2 separate regions of the Homo sapiens genome follow, and region 2 is linked to region 1. A link means that fine-mapping ties the variant in region 1 to the expression of a gene that starts in the linked region. Tissue or cell type: whole blood. Region 1 holds a variant in brackets; the other region holds the start of a gene. All regions are shown on one strand. Distances are between the middles of the regions.

What was found. PIP is the estimated chance that this variant, and not a neighbour inherited with it, causes the effect.
Region 2: CCDC88C starts here. The variant in region 1 is fine-mapped to the expression of CCDC88C in whole blood (INTERVAL, PIP above 0.99).

The regions. Positions count from the first base shown.
Region 1 is chr14:91,392,741-91,400,740 of GRCh38, forward strand. All of the region lies in intron 3 of CCDC88C (coiled-coil domain containing 88C), which reads right to left. It overlaps LOC105370624 (a long non-coding RNA gene), which reads right to left and starts at 7,459. Exons shown (of 2, transcript XR_944148.3): 1 at 7,399-7,459. RefSeq lists enhancers at 5,588-5,657, 5,751-6,382, 7,024-7,083, 7,444-7,803, 7,644-8,000. The variant C/T (reference allele first, on the strand shown) is at 4,926.
Region 2 is chr14:91,409,645-91,422,040 of GRCh38, forward strand. CCDC88C (coiled-coil domain containing 88C) reads right to left here and starts at 8,176. Exons shown (of 30, transcript NM_001080414.4): 1 at 7,987-8,176; 2 at 7,094-7,194. The coding sequence starts at 8,046. It overlaps CCDC88C-DT (CCDC88C divergent transcript), which reads left to right and starts at 8,602. Exons shown (of 3, transcript NR_184261.1): 1 at 8,602-8,696; 2 at 11,305-11,479. It also overlaps the pseudogene LOC112268126. RefSeq lists enhancers at 6,102-6,231, 6,622-6,751, 6,762-7,051, 8,657-9,301, 9,542-9,591 and 2 more and a silencer at 7,672-8,591.

The sequences.
Region 1 (8,000 bases):
CTCACCACGCCCCTCACTCTCACCGCGCCCCTCACTCTCACTGCACCCCTCACTCTCACTGAGCCCCCTCACTGCACTTCCTGGGAGAGGCAGAGGCTGCCGGAGTCCCCGCCCTGAGTGAGTCTGCAATGTAGGGTGGGACACAGAGAAAACAAGTCAGGGCCAGGGGTGTGATGACGGCGATAATGATGTTAAATTCCAGAGAGTCCTCAAGGCCTCACATAGCGAAAAAGGAAAGGTGCTGGGGAAGGAGAAACTGCAAGGACAGGACGTGTGAGGCAGCGGGAGAGGGAGAGACAGTACCGGAGTCCGCTCCCGGAAACGGCCCCTGGGCACTGGGCTGGGCATTTCCCAGGCACCAATCGCTCACTGGCTCTCTCAGAATCACTGCAACCCAGGGAGGGGAGTGCAGTCATCACCCCCATCTGACAAAAGAGGAACAGGCTAGGAGGGGTTGGGCCGCTTGCCCCAGGTCACACCAGTGTCAGGGCAGCCCTGGAGGACAAGAGGAGCTGCCCCGGGAGAGGCTGAGCTGGGAGATGACAGGTCCAGGTGCCAGCTATTCTGTCCGCAAGTAGGATGGGAGCCCCCCCACCCCCTAAACCCCCAGCCCTGCAGGCAGAGGGGCAGATGAGGCAGAGGCAACCTGAGCGAATTCTACCTCCCGAAGGAAGAAACAAGGGCAAGGTAGGAGAAGGGGTACAGACAGAAGCGCCCTCCCAGACGGCCCACACCTCAGCCCCGATCTGGCTTCCTCTGAAGGTCTGGACTACCTGTTTTGGATTAACTGCCCCAGGTGGTTATCAAAATAGCCCAGAGTTCTCAGAAACCACCAACGCTTCCTTCTTCTGGCATCTAAGCTTGGGATACTCGCCTCTGCAACTTAGTCCATTTCCACCTGAAATATTCAACTTCCCAGCCTGTCCAACATGGTGAAACCCCATCTCTACTAAAAAATACCAAATTAGCCGGGCATGGTGGCCCATGCCTGTAATCCCAGTTACTCAGGAGGCTGAGGCAGGAGAATTGCTTGAACCTGGGAGACAGAGGTTGCAGTGAGCCGAGATCGCACCACTGCACTCCAGCCTGGGCGACAGAGCGAGACTCCGTCTCAAAAAAAAGAAATCAACTTCATGAGCTCTACTCCGTAAAATCTGAATGCCACAAATTCTCACCCTAAAAACAGGGTGCTAGAAGACCAATTGAGCACAAAAAGTGCCAGCTGCTCCGGAGTTTCTGTCCTTTAAGTAGCCACAATTCCACACTTTAAAGGCACGTAAATCTGACTTGCTGGGCAGAAGGTGAGCCTGTCTGGTTACTAAGGTTTGGAAAGGAGGCAAAAATTTTAGTCTTAAAATTTTAAAGTCATTCAGCCTAAACCTTAGAATGCTCAGGGGAGCCAAGCTGGCTAGACAAAGTTGAAAACAATCAATTTAATTTCCACCCCCCAGGGACTGAGCCTCCCAGTACCTGACATATGGCATTTCCATCAACAAAGCAAACACCACATGAAAAGCCTACAGGTCTGCGTGAAAACAGTAGGGGAGCCCTAAGCTCCAGCCCAGCCCCCTCACTGCATTGCACCTCCATACCGGTTTACCCCTGTTTACCCTCTAAACAGTCAGGGTCTGGGTCCCTGCCATGTGTCAGGGACACAGAGGAACAAGGCAGGCCCCATCCTCTAATTATTCAACAGTCTAGAAAGGGCAGCAGGTCGGGGGCACTTTGCAGGGTCATTTTAACCTAGAGACAGGATTCCCGGCCCAGGCCTGGTGTGACACCGTGCTCCCTGATTGTAATGACTTATTCTCTGAATTATTTACTCCACTGAATGGTGGCCTCCGTTGTTATGTATCTTGTCATTAACACATGCTGACTGACGGCAGACACATTTCCATGCTGGTGTGACAGACAAACAGAAAGATTCAGTGCCTGCTTTTAAGGAATTCTATTGCTGGTGAGGGATAAAATCATGAGGCTTCCTTTGATGAGATAATATGTGTAAGTCACTCAGCTTAAAATAAAACGATCATACAGGAGAAAAACGTGCAGGGCTAGAGACAGGCACACGTGCACACTCGCAAGATTAATCCAAATGAATCAGAGCGCATTACTCCGGGAGGGGTCCTTGGATAATCCGCTCAGTAACAAATGAACACAGAGTGGCCAGGGGACGGGCCTTGGGTGGGGGGCCTGCCTGCCACCCCTCTGCCAGACGGGTGGGCATCCTCCCCTCCCACCCACGTGTCCCCTGAGTACAAGGCCTTTGTAGAACCCCTCCTACAACCCTCCCAGGCTGGCACTATTAATATCTCCACTTTTCAAATAAGAAAGACTCTCAGAGATGAAGTAACTTACCCAAGGCCACAAATCTGAGGGGTACGCTCAAAGGAACCCACCATTCGACCTTGTGCCTCTGCAGATGGTGAGGCTCTTGGTTGTTTTTCCATTTCTATTTGGATTTGTGTCTCCTGCCTCCCAAGACCCCTACCTGCAAGTAACTGCCCCCTCCGCCTGCAGAATACAGGTGAACAAGTACGTCCCCTGCAGAGTCAGCCTGGGACCCAGAGCTGTCGCTATTATTATTCACTGATTAAAGAAACGTCTTGTGATCTCATTTGAGCCTCACAACCACCTATAAGGTAATTTTTACCCCTGCTCTACAGGTGAGGTTGGACGATGCACCCTAAGTCACACTGCTGGGAACAGTGAACACAAGCTTCTGGACCAGGGAAAGCGTTCAGGGACCCAAGCTGACACAGTGGCAGAGCTCTCATCATTCCTGCCTTCCCACCTCCCATTCCACCTTGTTCTCTGGCTTCACTTTTCTGGCCTTCGGGTAACCAAAGAAGTCACCCCACAGAGCTGGCTCACCCACTTCCACCAGGCAGTGGCTAACGTTATCCCCCAGCCGAGAAGGCAAACCTGCCTGCTCCCTCCCCAGGCCACCAGCCCCCAGGCCAGGATTGCCCAGCTGCAGCTAAGGAAAGCAACCAGAGGCTTCTCCCTAGAGCTGCAGTGTGCCCCATCTCTTCCCCTACAGAACACCCCTACATGTAGAATTACCACCCCTCAACCCTTAGCCTCCCCGAAACCCAATCCCAAACCAATAGAACCCTCCCAGTGGAACGTGGCAGCCTTGACTCTTTATCTGAAATCTCTGCCTCCCCCCTAAATACCACCAACTCAGAACTGGGGGTACAGAGTGCGGCCCCTTCAACTTTTACAGTACTGGCTGAAACCACCAATTTAAGACCAGCACTTCCTCATCCTCCTTCCCTCGACATTCCTCTCATTACTAGAAAAATAAGACGACAATTATATCGCGACAATTACATCTCGAAGGATCAAGGGGCCCTGGATGCCAAGGCGAAGCAGCAGAGAATCTCTGCCATTCCCCAAAGAAGAGCTGAATAACAAAAACTGTTACGAGCCCTGGAGGTGAGCCACGCAGCCGGCTTCACGGAGAGGCAGAGCCTGCCTGGGCAAGTTCTTCTTCAGAAACTCCTTTTGACAAACCAGTGAGAACATCAAACATGCTGATCCTGGCATCTAACACCAAACCCAAGGCAAAGGAGAAACCTCTGTTTTTTCTTTTTAACGACTTGAGAAATCCATTTCTCTCCTTTCTGTCACAAAAGGAACTGGTTCCTCCTGCCACTTCCTCCCACTTTGGCGTTTAGGGTATGTCCATAAAGTGAGCTGTGTTTCCAACCTTCATTCACGCCCGCATCACTCGATTCCCACAACACTCATCACCCACAAGTGCAGCTTTCAATCGGAGCTGAACGAGAGCTAACTAAGAATGAGCCCGACAAGCACCGGGAACACCAAGCACAGCTCACTCGCGGCTTCTGCAAGCTTAACATTCATCGTTTCAGCCATAATTTTTCCGGAAGCACAAATTCAGACCCCTTGCCCTCCGATCAGGGGATCACTCAGCTTCCACTCCCAGAAGCTTTGTTGCTTACTTTGTGCTCCCCAAGATGGGCTCATAAACACACATCTCTGTAAATAAATGGCCATGAATTAAGAAACAACTTCAGGAGTTCGAGACCAGCCTGGGCAACACAGGGAGACTCTGTCTCTACAAAAAATCAGAAACATAAATTAGCCAGAAGTGGTGGTGCATGCTGGTAGTCCCAGCTACTCGGGGGGCTGAGGCAGGAGGATTGCTTGAGCCTGGCAGGTCAAGGTCGAGGCTGCAGTAAGCCGTGATCGCACCACTGCACTCCAGCCTGGGCTACACAGAGCAAGACCCTGTCACCAAAAAAAAAAGAAAGAAAGAAAAAAACTTGAGCAAACGGTGAAAAAATCAATACTTGACATGGTAAGATAACCTGTATCAGAAACATGATTCTGGAACAAACACCAATAGGGGAGGGAGAGGGGCCTGGGGGAAGTCCCGATGTGTCAATGTCCAGAGGTGGGCAGGTCTCCAAGCAGACCCTGTGAGGCTGCATGTTCTGAGCATCTGGGCTCGGTGCTGTGCCCAACAGGCCCAGGCAAGGGGACAGCCACAGGGGCCTGGGTGGCATCCCCAACACCAGGAGTGAAAGCAAGACTCCTGAGCCAAACCTCCTTCCCGCAAAGGCTGAGGAAATGATGGCCGCTCCTGAAACAGGAGAAAAGCCCCAGCAAATCAAGGTCTTGACTCAAGTCCTAGAGAAGGAAGCCTCAGAGAACAGAAAGACTGTGTACACACACACACTCACACACACTCTCACACTCACACACTCTCACACTCATACTCACACACACACATTCTCTCCATCTCCTTGCCCTGGCTGAACTCCAACTCTGCTAATTACATCAAACCCACCTTTCGCCCTCTGCAACACCTGCAATTAACCCTGAATCTCTGCTTCCTGCCGCTCTGGGGTGAGGGGTGAAGTCTGAGGCCAGCTGCTCCCTGTTCCACCCTC[C/T]GCCCAACCCCGGAAGTTTCAGAGGTGCCTGAAGCAACCCGGTCCCTTCCTCTGGGCTCCAGGCTGGTGTGAAGCCGGGTTATCACGGGAGCCCACACTCCCAGCTGGGGGGCACACCACACGCAGCACCCCCACCCCACTGCGGGTGCAGATCCTGACTGGCCCTGCCAGCCTTTACAGGACAGCACGTCCACCTGCAGCAAGTTACCTCCCTACATGATTCTAGAAAGCCTGGCTTTTAGAAAGAAGCTTCTCCAAGCAGCTGATGATGAAGAAAACTTGCAGCTTTCCGGGGCTGTTTCCTGATCTTGCTCCATGAGCCTTGGTTTCCTAATCTATCGAATGGAGACAGTAATTTCTTCTTTATAATACCGAAGTAACAGTGAAAAATGACGAGGCTCTAAAGCCCCCAGCATGGGCACTCAGTAAAGGTTAAGCTCCCTCCCATTCATCTCTCAGCCTTTTGATTTGGGCACAGATCTGAGTCCCACAGTTCCTCGCTGCTATCTGATATGCCTGGACAGCATTTCTTCTGACAACAAAAAGGAGAGAAAAGAAAGGAAAACAAGTCCAACTGGCACTCTAACAGCTTACAGAAACCAAATCTGCCTCCCAAGAGGTTTGGGCGTTCAGCACACCACCAGGTCCTCAGCCCGTTTGCTTCACCCCTGGCCAACAGTTGAACCACTGAGCTTGTAACACCAACACTGGCTGGCATGGTGGCTCACGCCTGTAACCCCAACACCTTGGGAGGCCAAGGCAGGAGGATCGCTTGAGCCCAGGAGTTTGAGTAGCCTGGCCAACACAGTGAGACCCCATCTCTACAAAAAATACAAAAATAATTAGCTGGGCATGGTGGTGCACACCTGTAGTCCCAGCTACTTGGTAGATTGAGGCTGGAGGATTGCTTGAGCCCAGGAGTTTGAGGTTACAATGAGCTATGATCGCGCCACTGCACTCCAGCATGGGTGACAGAGTGAGACCCTGTCTCAAAAATAAATAAATAAAAAGGTAAAATAAATAATTGAAAGAAATACAAGCAGCAGGAGCCAGCAGGACAGGGAGCACCACAGGCTGGGAGTGCAGGCCTTTTGTTAAGTGTGGAAAGGGTGATTCTAGTGGCCCTGAGAGCTGCAGCCCTCTTGTCTGGCTGATCAGGAAGCTACTGCCAGCAGCCTGCAGCCCTGGGGGCGCACAGGTCTGCTGCAGAGCATGGCTTTCCTCGGCCCAGACGGCTGTTCCTGCTCCTCTAGGGTGCTTGCTCCAGGTGGGCACTGAGCCGCCCACAGCTGAGTGGTCTCCTGGGCCTCGGGCAGCCCTGTGTGCTGGTGCCCTCTCTCCTCAGGGGTTCTCCTCTCTGCGGACCACTCTCCCTCTGGTCCTCCCACTTGGGGGACTCCTCACTGTCATCTTGGGGAGTCCCATGTGCTCTGCCCAGCCCTAACCCTGGGGCCTGCTCCCACCTCCTTGGCCATGGGCAGTTCTCATTCTCCATGCCTGCTTGTGACTCTTGAGCCAACCTCCCCATGGCTCCCATCTGCATTCCCAGCCAGGAACGCTCAGATCCACCTGACCGACACCAGTGACACCAAGCTGGCTTGCTCCCCACTAAGCCCACTTCTCCTCACCCAGAGCCCCAGGCCCACCCAGAGAACAGCACCAACGCCCCAACCCCAAGTCACACCAGGAACCCACGGACCCCTCAGCCCTGGATTCCCACATCTGGGCTGGATCCCCATAGAGTCTCCTAGAGCTCGTCCTTCTCTCTGCTGCCGTGGCCACAGTCCAGGGCCCTGCCACCTGCCAACCCCTCCCAACACCTGTGCATTCTCCAAATGGGAGCAGGAGTTTTCTTTCCTAAGCTCTCTCTTTTAGAAGTTCAGGTTCCTAGGCCAGGCTCAGTGGCTCACGCCTGTAATCCCAGCACTTTGGGAGGCCGAGGCAGGTGGATCATCTGAGGTCAGGAGTTCAAGACCAGCCTGGCCAACACGGTGAAACCCCGTCTCTACTAAAAATACAAAAAATGTGCCAGGCATGATGGCAGGTGCCTGTAATCCCAGCTACTCAGGAGGCTGAGGCAGGAGAATCATGTGAACCCAGGAGGCAGAGGTTGCAGTGAGCCGAGATCGCGCCACTGCACTCCAGCCTGGGCGACAGAGTGAGACTCCCTCTCAAAAAAAAAAAAAAAAAAGAAGAAGAAGAAGAAGTAGTTGAGATCCCTAAGCACCTAAGCACAGCCTGGAGCCTCACCCCCATACCCGCAAGAGACGCCCCAACCTTCAGGCTGCTTTATGTCTCCAAAGCTCTGCAGGTGCCGCTCTTCCCCAGAGGACACCCCTTCCCTGCCAGTCAACCCCACCAGCCGCAGGCAGACATTTCCCCCGAGAAAGCTCTCCAGGATCCCTGCTCCCCAGGCCTGTGTCTGGCCATATCCCATGTCCTGCGTACACAGGTGTTATTGCAGCTGATTTACCTGGCCACTCTCCCACCCCACAAAACGTGAGCATCTCGGGCATGGAGAGGACAAGAAAGAGAAACAGAAAGAGGAAGAGCCGGTAACCTGTCAAGTCCCACCCACCTGGGGGCCACCAGAGCTTCCACATCCTGCATTTCCTTCTTCTATTATACAAGCTCTAGCTAGGGAATGGGGATCGGGAGGAGGACGGGGGACCCCCCGCAGACCATTGCCCTCCTCAGGCACATCTCCCAGCAGTCTGGAGGGTTCGCTCTTGAATTCTGAACGGACTGCAAACCTTCACATGGAAGCTGACTGTGACCTCCGGATGGTTGGGTCCACAAAAGCTCCCGCTGCCGACATGGGGACAGAGCCCAGGCCAGAGCTGGACTCCCGGCCACAGCCAGGCCCTGCCCCTAATGGCTGCCTTGTTCTCTAACCCCACTACGATTCCCTCAGGCAGTCCTGCTGGAGAGATCCCCAAAAGGCACTCAAGATCCTCCAACAAAAACGAAGTCCACCCAGACATTGCAAACACAACCTCAGGACCTCACCGCCTGGCAGGGACTCGAGAATCTTCAGCATGCAATAGCAATTTGTTAAAATAGCTGCATTTTAAC
Region 2 (12,396 bases), 19 kb after region 1:
GCCCAGCTAATTTTTGTATTTTTAGTAAAGACAGGGTTTCACCATGTTGGCCAGGCTGGTCTCGAACTCTTGACCTCAAGTGACACCCGCCTTGGCCTCCCAAAGTGCCGGGATTACAGGTGTGAGCCACTGTGCCAGGCCAAAATGGTACATTTTCTGACTTAATTCGCCAATAAAATCATAATGTTCCATTAAACACAGGTCTCCCTCTGTCATGCGAATTGGTCTTGGGCTGGTCCTCCCTGTGATTTACAAATTCCAGGGACAAAAATCCTATCTTGAGAAACTGGCATAAACAATCTATGGCACTCTATGGTGTACAATGCACCCTGTAAGAAATGCTAAGAGACACAATTAATTCATGTGGGGAATCCCCGAAGTGTCATTTATTTTCCAACCTCAGGCAAAAGTTGGGTCTGGCTGTGATGAAACTAGAAATCTACATCAAGTGATGTATCATGTCCCTCCCTCATCTATATACAGGACATTTCTCAAAATGCTCAGTGTCAGAAAACGTTCCCCATTAGACAAGAGCACTCAGCATTACTGAGTTCGCTTCCACCCTTCCACAGACTGTGCGCTGCTTTTCATAACAAAGGCCTCCCTTCCATCTGACAGTCCCAAGACACCGCAAAGGATGGCTAATTCAAAGGAGAGCCTGTCTTCACAGTTTCTTCTGTTATCCAGACCCCGTGATGAAGGTGCTGAGCCTCTTGGGGGTTAGTGTGGGGAGTTAAGGAAATCAATCTCAATGCCATCTGGCTCATTCAAAGCCAATAATTAGTAGAAAATTGACAAAGGAAAAAAAAACCCTACAAATCGAAAACGTTTCAAATGTTTCTGGAAGTACAGTGATGGAGTGTGGCCAAGTCATTTACATGTTACATGTTTCTCTTGGAGTCATGCATAACTGAGAAAATAAAGGTTAAGAGTTCTGTGGAAATTAATTCAGGAAAAGAAGAGGCATTCAGAATTTAAACTGCAAAGGCATTTTTAGCTACAGAAGTGTTCCTGGCAGCATAAAGTAATTTATCTTAAAGGTACAATTCCCCTCCCTTTACTGTAGATACCTTAAAAGATGAAAATCAATTTCACAGTGACAAATGCACTTCTTAAAATAGCAGAACTCAGAGAACATGCAGCGCTTTTTCTGTTTTGTTTCTTCTTTCTTTGGTCTTTGTCATTGTAGACCCATCTTTCATTGAAGTCAGACGGGACCACCCCAGGAGTGGCCAGGAGCCGAAAGCCTCAGTATACATCGTGGACATCTCCAGCACGTGCAAAGGCATAGCATACACTCAGGGTCGGGAACCTGGGAGTCCCCTCACATCACAGCATAGAAGCCTCTGACCATCCCTGCTATTGTTCTCCCCAGTTCTTGCAAGAAATAGCTCACTGAAACAACTCTAAAAGAACCCTGACATTTACTGTATGAGTAATTAAGCTACTTACCGTGATTATTACGACTCCCTCCTTTAACTAAGCCTCTCTGGGTAGAGAGCTATCAGGACACTAATCAAAACAAAAGCCTCAACTACAGTTAAGGCAGGCACATCTCAATCTCCACTCTGCCCAGCACCCCCGTAACTCCCACCTTTCCATGCTGTACAAAATGGGAATCAAGAGACATGGGTTCTAGCCCAGGTCCCAAGCCCAGCCAAAGCTCACTGGGCTTCAGTGTTCTCATCTGCAAAATGGCTACAGGATCCTTCCGGCCTTCAAAGTCTATATGGTTCCATGAAGCCTACATCTGCAGTAGCAAACGTGGACTGTACTTGCTTCTGTACCACAGGAAGATGTTATTATAACCGCTAAACAACTGCACTTCCCCAAAAGTTGTCATTCAGAACAACAATCATCTTTATATGATAGTCCTAAAACTTAAAAGGCCAACACTCTAGTATCAGGATCTCAGAGGACACGACATAAATATGGTAGCTGGTCGGAACTTGGAGAGTTCCAAGAGTTCCAAGTCTAAAGTGTGGGCCCCCAGGGATTCCTTTTCATAAAAACTTCCAACTAGAAAAAAAGAAACTGGCCAAGCACGATGGCTCATGCCTGTAACCCCAGCACTTTGGGAGGCCGAGGTGAGAGGATCACTTGAGGTCAGGAGTTCGAGACCAGCCTGGCCAACATGGTGAAACCCTGTCTCCACTAAAAATACAAAAATTAGCCAGACATGGTGGCATGCGCCTGTAATCCTAGCTAATCGGGAGGCTGAGGCAGGAGAATCACCTGAACCTGGGAGGCAGAGGTTGCAATGAGCAGAGATCAAGCCACTACACTCCAGCCTGTGCAACAGAGTGAGACTCCATCTCAAAAAAAAAAAAAAAGGAAGAAGAAAGATAACCAATTCTTGCTAGAATTTTAAAAAGAGTTATAATTTAGGCTTACAGTAACCTTGCCCCCCTCCTTTGGGAAAGCCAGCCCCCAACTTTTGGTCATATTCCAAAAACTTCCTAAATTTAAAGCTAAATCAAGAAACTATGTATTGACACAGAGAGATATCCCTAATTTATCACAGGTTAAAAAACATGCTAAATGTTTTTATATATGTTTAATGTATTTTTATACAAATATGGACCCATGCTAAAAAACAATAGCAAGAGTCCATATTTGTATAAAAATATTAATACATTAAGGACACGTATTAATATATATCATAGATAACATTCGGAAGGCACTAGAATATTGACATTGCTACCTCCACATGGTAAAATCACAGGCAAGTTTTATTTTGCTCATCTGTATATATTCCTATTCTCCTAAGATGAACATAGTTTGTGTATTTTTTTCTTTTTTTTTTTTTGAGATGGAGTCTGGCTCTGTTGCCCAGGCTGGGTGCAGTGGCACAATCTTGGCTCACTGCAAGCTCTGCCTCCCGGGTTCATGCCATTCTCCCGCCTCAGCCTCCTCAGTAGCTGGGACTACAGGCGCCCGCCACCACGCCTGGCTAATTTTTTTGTATTTTTAGTAGAGACGGGGTTTCACTGTGTTAGCCAGGATGGTCTCGATCTCCTGACCTTGTGATCCGCCCACCTCAGCCTCCCAAAGTGCTGGCATTACAGGCGTGAGCCACCGTGCCCAGCCTGTTTGTATAATTTTTAAGGACTCAAAGCCCCCATGTGTCATATACTGCAGCCAAAAGATGGAAATTACTTAAGTTCATAGGTAAAAATTGTTTTTTCCCAAGATTTTTGCGCCAATACAAATTCATTCAACCAACAAGTAAAATTTCCCCTTTTATCCTAAGCTTCTACATCTGCAAAAGGGAAACATAAACTCTCCTTCAAGTGCACTGGGGTAAAAGTTATCCTTCAAATGCTTTTTGGGAGGTAAAGAAACTCTCCTATTTCCCCGAGGATGTTTCTAACCTATGAATAATTAACACAGTATCCTGAATTTTGCAGCTAGCACCAGGGGTCACAAGCAGCCTGAACAAATATGGTTGAACTTAAAGGGCACAAGCTCTCAGCCCTAGTACCAAGTTCCAACTTTAGCCACTGCGTCAAACCGGATGGTTTACTCTCACAAGTAGAGATGTACAGCACTAAGGGCATGGGTACACGTACGTATGTCCACACACAAACTCAGATCTGGGCCTCATCTGCACAATGATAGACATATGTTAGGCTTGTTCTATATACATAGTTTTATTTAAATCTCCCCCAAATTGGTAAAATACCATCCCCTTATTACAGATCAGGAAATCAAGGCTTAGAGAGTTTCAGTCATTTGCCCAACATAATAACACTAGGAAGTGGCAGAGTGGGGATTTGAACTTGTCTGCCTGATGCTAGGGTTAAGGCTCTTAAATAATTTTCCTACAAGAGAATGAAAAACGTGTCCAAAGTTAACCAGAGCAAACTTTGTTTTCTCTTGGGTGCTGGTAGGTACCCAAGACACTGTGTTGACAGAGGGGCTATTGAGCAGGCATTCCCAGGCCTCTCCATCCAGGCCACTCAAAGCCTCAGTTTCATTCATGAATTCTCCTAGCCCTGGGCCTCCCCAGAAAGCTGAACCTGTGGGGCTTCCCTGCTTCCAGGTGCTGATGTCACCAGGAGACCAGGGCCGAGAGACTACTAACAGCCTTCTCCGGTTGCCGGAGACAATGGCCAGGTGCAGTCACGTGACCCCCAGCCAACCTCCACAAGGCTCCCAGGTGTTAGGTAACAGCCTCTTATCTGAGCTCTGTTAGCAGTACTGCTCAACGCGATTTCTTCAGGTCCTACAAACTTGGGGTGAAGGAATCAAAACAGGCAAATAGCACAGTCTAGGAGCTACTGGTATGGGAGATGAGGCAGAACAGCCTTACCCCTTACCTGCTGGCTAGTGACATGTTGCCATTTGGTAGAAGTGAAAACAGAGGCTTAAGTGCAGTACAGTCTAAATGCGGGGCTAGGACTTGGGTCCCAGGGTCCAATGTTGCCCTAGACCTCATTGGTAGAGGGCTAAGGGCTGAGAACTGTGGGGTAATCCAAGGATCGAAGAATGTGGGGGAAAAGGTAGGCCACACAAAAAAAGAACTTTTAGTTGGTGCCTCAAATCCTTTCTGGATTAAGATGGCACCTACATAGGCAAATAGCTAAATGTTAACACAAGGTTTCATTCTGTCCTCACAACCATCTCTTAAGGAAGGTACTTTACGTCCCATTTTACAGATGAGGAAACTAAGGCACTGAGCGACATGCCCAGTGTCACACTGCTGGTAAAAGGGAGGCCAAGGGTTTGAATCCCAGCTGGCTATGTAGGCTGTCCGATACAGGCCAGGGTTCATTGTTTAGTTGAGGTAATTTTACATAGCATGAAATGCATAAAGTTATAATTTGAGGAGTTTTGGAAAATGAAACATACTCCAGCCACTCTGCAGGACATTTCAACTACCCTGAAAAGGTTCCCCCGGGTCCTTTCCAGTCAATCCTCACCACTTCCAGACACAAAAACACTATTCTGACTTCTATCACCTGGAACTGGGTGATTCTGATGACCCATGCAGGAAACCATGCCCACCCGCTCTCTCTTCTCTTTCCTCATTCTGGAAAGCCAGCCATTCAGCCTCCCCACGCTCCATTCCTCTGTGCCCAACTCATCCTGAGGGACCCAGAAGCACTTCTTGAAGTCTTAAGAGCTACAATTTACCAGTTCCCACTTCTGGAATGATTACCTTGGCATATCACAGAGAGAACATCTAAAATTGCCCAGGGAAGGGGAGAAACCCTCCCACCCCACACCACCCCGGCCGAATTTAGCCATGGGCCAAATGAGAACAAGTGATGAGCTGGCGTTTCTCAAAGGAACGGTCCAACAGGCTTTCCTGATTTACAAGCAAGTGGGAAACGCTTCAGGAATTCCAAAGGTCAGGGAAGAAAGAGAAACAGTCCCAGTGCTTTTGTTCCCCCCTCTGCCTGGGTGTAGGAGCTGAATGAAAAGGCTGGGGATACTGCTGGTTTTTTTAATTAAACAGTCTTGGGCTTGGGTAAGGACAGGTTGAAGTTTCACCGGTCATTGCGCCAATGGAATCCAGTAATTTTCAGGGTCTAACAGAATGAGGGGAGAGTGGCCAGAACTCGAATATGCCACGAGACAGCTTCCGGAAAACTCAGTTTCAACAAAGTTATCTAAGAAGTGCTGTCAAAGCTGGCAACAGATTTATGTTTTTCAATCTAATCAGACACTGAAGACTGGTAAGATTGGTAGTGACTTTTTTTCCTACACCCACAGCTGTGAACTTTAAAAAAAAAAAAGCAAAAACCATTAAACAGCATGACATCAAATGACTTATTAAAATAAAAGGAGGCCGGGCACCACAGTGGCTCATGCCTGTAATCCCAGCACTTTGGGAGGCCAAGGCAGGCGGATCACCTGAGGTCGGGAGTTCGAGACCAGCCTAACATGGAGAAACCCCATTTCTACTAAAAATACAAAATTAGCCGGGCGTGGTGGCGCATGCCTGCAATCCCAGCTACTCGGGAGGCTGAGGTAGGATAATCGCTTGAACCCGGGAGGCGGAGGTTGTGGTGAGCTGAGATCACGCCATTGCACTCCAGCCTGGGCAACAAGAGCGAAACTCCGTCTCCAAAAAAAAAAAAAGCAAGGTTCTTGAATTATTTTTTTCTAAACAGGCTGTTTAAGGCAATCTATATAAGCCACTTTCTGGATATGCCAAAGCAAACTGCTCCTCTGCCTTTGTGAGCCACAAACGAAGCTGATCTCTCATTAGCTAATAGATTTATGCTCCAGTATGACAACTTGCTCAGTCGTAGGTGAATAGGTGCGCACACGAGGCTGATCCACAGAGAACATTAGGATGTTTTATTTTGCTTCAAGTGCCTGTGAATCATCCCGACACTCAGTTCCAATGTTCCCTGCAGTTTGAGTTAAAAACAGAATGCAAAGGTAGAAGCCAACACCTACGTTGTGGCAAGCTGTCAATCAGGCCGTGCAGAGCTCAGCAACAGGAAAGGATGTGGTCAGATGTACTCGCTGGCAAGAGTAACTTCTACTAAGACCCTGTTCAGGCTGCATGCTTCCAAACAAACAGCACCATGGGACCCTCCTAACACTGTGACTTTAAACTCAGTCCATACAGTAGGACTTAATGAATTGCACTTGCTTTGGGGCAACTGAAAAAGGAAGATGAAATGTAAAGGAGCTCAGAAACACAGACACCCTCATCTAAAATGAAACTTTACAGTAACCCTCGGATGCCTGGGCCCACCCCGACACTTCCTGTAACCAGACACTCTCCGTTACAGTTCCTTGCCCTCCAAAAGGGGACTTTTTCATTTCATTGCTCAAACCACAATTAAGTCCTTGAGTCTGAAGTCAATTGCACTATCTACACCACGTAAATGACAGTCATTCAATTCCAAATTTCCTTCATCAAACCAACTGCCAGACCCACTGTCCTGGAGTTCTTCAAACACCTACGAATGTCCAACAGGCACGTTAATACTGAGATACCAGCGTCTCCACCTTCAGAGAACTACCCCCCACCCCACACACACCCCGCCATGCAACCTTCCACTCCATTTCTACTCTCAAACTTTCTAACGCACCATTCTTTCCTTCCTCCGAGAAGAAGGTAACTTACATTTGCAGCATAATTTGGTTCAAAAAGATGCCGTCCACTAAATCCATGTACATAGTCAGGTTGTCCTGGCTGCCGCTTCCAAACGGGCCAAAAGTTTTCACCTGCGGGGAGGGGGACGAGGAGAGAAAGACAGGAAGTCACCCCGTGCGCACAAACGGTCCAAAGCTCTCCCAGGCAGAGACTGGACGGGTCAGTGTGAGCAGAAGGGGGTCACCCACGCCCACACCACCCTTCAGCAGGCACCAAGCCCGGCCTTCTCCTAGGGCCTGTCTCCCCTCCCCGCGCGGGGCAACAGACACGAGACAGGAGGAAAAACTTCCTCGCCACTTTTCTCCCGCGTTCCAGAGCGGAAGAAATAAAAATAAAAAGGACTTTTCAATAAATGTCTCACGTCTCAAATCCATTGTAAATCAGTGCGCCCACCCCAGTCTGTTCGCTTTCCCATTCGGCGCCCCCCATTCCCCACCCGTCACCGCCATCCACCGGCTGGTCTCAGGGATTCAGAAAAACTACATGAGATATTTGGTTGGGAAGAATGGGGTCCTTTTCGGGAGTGGCTAAACCCCAGGGACAGGAGTGACCACTGGGACCCGGTCCGCCCCGAGGCAGCCAGCCTAGAGCCCCAGCGGGAACAGGTGTACCCGCCCGGCTCCTGGCCCGGCCGAAAGCGCGGCGGGGTCCCGCGCCGGACGCACAACGGGGGCGCCGGCTCCAGAGTTACAAAGCTCCGGACTCCAGGACGCGGCCCCAACCCCGGCCGGGAGCCACTTGCTGCGTCCCTCGCGCCCCGGAGCCACCCGGGGCCCCGGCCGTGTCGGGTCTGCGGCGTCCCGTCGCCGGGCTAGAGAGAAGCCGGTGCACCAACAAAGGGGCGGGGAGCCAGGCGCACTCACCCAGGTCACCAGCGGGCTCTGCAGGAAGAGCTCCAGGAGCTCCGAGACTGTCACGTCCATGCTGAGGCTGCGCCCGCCGGCTCCGCGCCCCCCGCCCCGCGTCCCCGTTCCCCCGCGCCGCGGCACAAAACGGCTCCGCAGCGAGCAGCGGGCGCGGGGCTGCGGCGGCTCGCGCCCGGGAGACAAAGGCGGGGCGCGCGAGCCCACGTTCCGCGGCTTCGGCGGCCCCGCGCCCCGCCCGGGTCTGGGGGAAGGGGAGGGCCAGCCGCTCGGGGAGGAACAATACGGGCGGCCCCGCCCCTCGGCGGCCCTGGGCGACCGGCGCGCCGCCTCGCGGTGCCAGCCCGGGAGCCCGGGAGCCCGGGCGCGGGACCAGGCTACGCGGGGCGCTGGGAGGGGACTGGTGGCCCGAGGCGGGTGGGTCGCGGGGCCCGGCTCCCCGCCCGTGGGACCGCGCGCCCTCGCCGAGCGCAGCCTCCCCGCGTGTGGGGCCCCAGCACGTGGCGCATCCCTGCGCGCGTGCGCGTGCAGCCGGGGCCCGAGCGCCACGTGCGAGCTGGGGTGCGCGGGCACTGGTGCGTGCCGGGAGCGGGGACGCCCTGCCCTCCGAGGTTGCTCTGCCCTCCGAGGTCGCCCGCAGCTGCCGCCCGCTCTGGGCTTGGGGACCTCGGCCCTGCGCCTTTCCGCACTCCTGGCAGGTGCAGCCCCAGGTACAGTCAAGAGGCCCCGCAAACCCCCGCTCCTCACGCTTGTGCGCGGCGCGATAAACGCGCCCCGACCCTGGGGCTGGGCTGGAGGGCAAAGAAGAAACTTTATGTTGAGTTTAGGCCTTAGGGGCGCGGCCCCTCGCGCCCTACCGTGCCCCACCGTGCCATGTTCCGGGCTGCCTGCCTTCTAAAAGTTCCTGCAGGAAGCAGGTGATGTGGCCTCCCCGACCCGGGCCCGCCCCCACCACTTTGCCGGAGGCGAGCTAAATTCCAGCCGGGGTTCCTAGCAGCAGCTTAGTGGCAGGCGACAGGAAAAAGGGCAAAGGCCCCAACTGGCTGGAAGGCAAGCCCGGGGGCAGGACCTCCTTGCGGGACGGCACGAGGCAGGAGCCGGCTCCAGGCTGGTCTCGGCCTGGTAATAATTTCACACCACCAGCCGGTCATTGTTCAAAGCACTGTAGACCATTTTACTAATTTAACCCTAACGATCGCCGCATTTCGCAGCTGGGCCAACTGGTACAGGGTTGACCCGAAGGGCCCTGCGTGGCGCTTGGCAAGTATACAGCAGGCACTAAATGGCTGCCGACAGGCTCGGTGGTAATTTTGAAAGTTGGCTCTGTGCAGCGTTGGGGCTGCGGCATCTGCTGGTGGCGAGTGGTATTACAGCCCAGCGCTGGCGGACCCCGTTGGGCTGGGGAGGGTTGTGAGATTATGGCCTGAGAGCCAAGGGGGTCGGTTAGGGGTCCCTAGAGACTGTGGAAGGCGGGGTAGCATAAAACACAATGGGGGACTGCGGAGGAACTAAAATTTCGAGACTACATGGTTTTGTTGTGCACCAGAAGTTCATTAGAGAAGTTCCTTAATTGCTTCTCCGCCCGCCGCGATGGCACTCGACCCCGCGGATTAATTTAACAACTCTGATGGTTGCTCTGTGAAATTTAAAGAACAGTGGTTTAAGCAAAGACCACAAGAAAGAAGAATTGAGATCAAAGAGGAGTGTGTGCCATCGCTGTGGAGGAGTTTCAGTTGTGAATCATGAAATGTCCTGTAAACCATTTCAAGGAGTTTGATTTTTATACCAAAAACAATGGGAAGACACTACAGGTTTTTGGAGCAGCAGCTCAGACGTGTCGAAAAAGATGTTTTGATCCCTAAAATAATGAGAGAAAAGGCCAGAGAGAGGTCTTCTGACAAGTTCAAGATTTTACCAAATGTTGCAAGAACTCTGGAATCCTTATGGTAGTAAAATGCTGGAAAGAAAATTCTGCATTGAAAGAATGTCTTAACAGCTCACTATAATGACCCAGCCTTTTATGAATAATGCAAAGTGGAAAACCTGAAGGAAAAGGAAGAATTCAGAAAAACTGGAATTTCTACAAAGAAAAGTCTACAGAAGCTGCCCACAAGTGTGTAGACAAATATTCAGATGACATTCAGGATCTCTAATACTCATGGAAGTCGTTTATAGAATAAACCTTAAATAATGGACTCAAGAATGTGTGTTTGCTAATTATGTGTGTATCCTAATTATGGAAATATTAATTTTATCTGAAATAAAAATCTTTTTTTCTTTTCTCTTTTTTTTTTTTTTTTTTTTTTTTGAGACAACAGAGTCTCACTCTGTTGCCCAGGCTGGAGTGCAGTGGCGTGCTCTCTGCTCACTGCAACTCCGCCTCCCGGGTTCGCGCCATTCTCCTGCCTCAGCCTCCAGAGTAGTTGGGACTGCAGGCGCCCACCACCACGCCCGGCTAATTTTTTGTATTTTTTACTAGAGACGGGGTTTCACCGTGTTAGCCAGGATGGTCTCTATCTCCTGACCTCGTGATCCGCCTGCCTCGGCCTCCCAAAGTGCTGGGATTACAGGCGTGAGCCACCGCGCCCGGCTAAAAATCTTTTATTTAAAAAAGTTCCTTAATTGCTCATAATGTAAGTTAGTTCAAAAATAGGTATGATGTGTACACACACCGCTCTTCGCTCGGAAGCCTCTCTTCTGAAAAGTAAGGGATGCAGATGCGGCCAAAGTTGTTTTTCCAATTTTTTTGGAAAGACAAGGATGAGGAATCTTTAAAGTTATTTATTGAGGCCGGGTGCAGTGCCTCACACCTGTAATCCCAGCACTTTGGGAGGCCTAAGTAGGTGGATCACTTCAGCCCAAGAGTTCAAGACCAGCCTGGCCAAAAAAAATAGAAAAATTAGCTGGGTGTGGTGGTGCACACCTGTGATCCCAGCTACTCTGGAGGCTGAGAATCACTCGAACCCGGGAGGGGAAGGTTGCAGTGAGCTGCTATTGCACCATTGCACTCCAGCCTGGGTGACAGAGCAAGACTCTGTCTCAAAAAAAAAAATTTATTGAGTAAGCTTATTCTTTCACACTAAGAAATACAGTGGACAAATGCCTTCTGACAGTTGTGAGACTTTTCCCATCCTGGTGAGGGAATTTTCCCCTGGGGACATTGACAAGGCCCTGGGCCACAGCCATGTCAGGAATGTTTGCTTTGGGGTCAGTTAGCTGCTGTGTTGGTTCATAATCATTGATGTATCTGCTACCATGCCTTGGCTTGACTACGCCACCAGGATTAAAAGGATCTAACTCAGCTCCCTTGTTCCCTAGGAGGCAATGGGGCAGGCAAACTGGATGGTGCCCCAGGTGTAGCAAGCTTGGAAGGCTTCAAAGGACGGGACAAGTTTGGCCTGGACAAGTTTCCTCCTAGAAGTCACTTAATCTGCAAAATCAAGATAAGACCATTTTCCCCATGTGACTTGACAAGACAATATTAAAGCTCAAGGTGATGCATGTAAAAAGATTGTGGAAGCCATAAAGCTTTATAGAGATACATAATCACTGTCTCTTCCTCATCTCCTGCCCCATTCTGCTACCCTTGCTTTAATAAAAATTGTTTCCCCGAAGTCTCCGTCGGGCTGGGGCATAAGCTTCAAGGAGCAAATGCACAGACCCTCCACTGACCACTACACAGAGAGTCCCAATGCCCCTCCTCCATCCTTCCAGAACACCCTTGGCTTTCACTCCATCCATCTGAGCCTTAACTCTTTATTTTTAAGTTTTTCCTTGTTAATCTCTGGATATAAATGTATCTATTGCTTAATACATTGCTTCCTGGGTAGAAGCAGTATTTTGTGTTCTTCTGATAAAGGAATTTTCTACCCTCTCAGAAAATACTGACTCAGCAGTGTTAGCTAATGGCATTTCTACTTCACCTGATAGGAGCAGGAGCTTAAATTGTTACTACAACTTGGGGTGGGGAGAGGGAATGGCTATTTTTTTTTTTTTTCGAGACTGAGTCTTGCTCTGTCACCCAGGCTGGAGTGCAGTGGCGCAATCTTGGCTCACTGCAACCTCTGTCTCCCAGGGGTCAAGCTATCTCAGCTCACTACCATGCCGAGCTAATTTTTGTATTTTTAGTAGAGACAAGGTTTCGCCATGTTGGCCAGGCGGTTCTCAAACTCCTGACCTCAGGTGATCTGCCCGCCTCGGCCTCACAAAGTGCTGAGATTACAGGTGTGAGCCACTATGGCTGGCCACAAAATACTATATTCTATGATAGTTTTATATTCTGTCACAGATCTGACATTTTGGAACGTTCTTTTATTTACTTTATTTATTTATTTATTTATTTATTTTTGAGACAGAGTCTCGCTCTGTTGCCCAGGCTAGAAGTGTAATGGCTGAGCAATCATAGCTCAC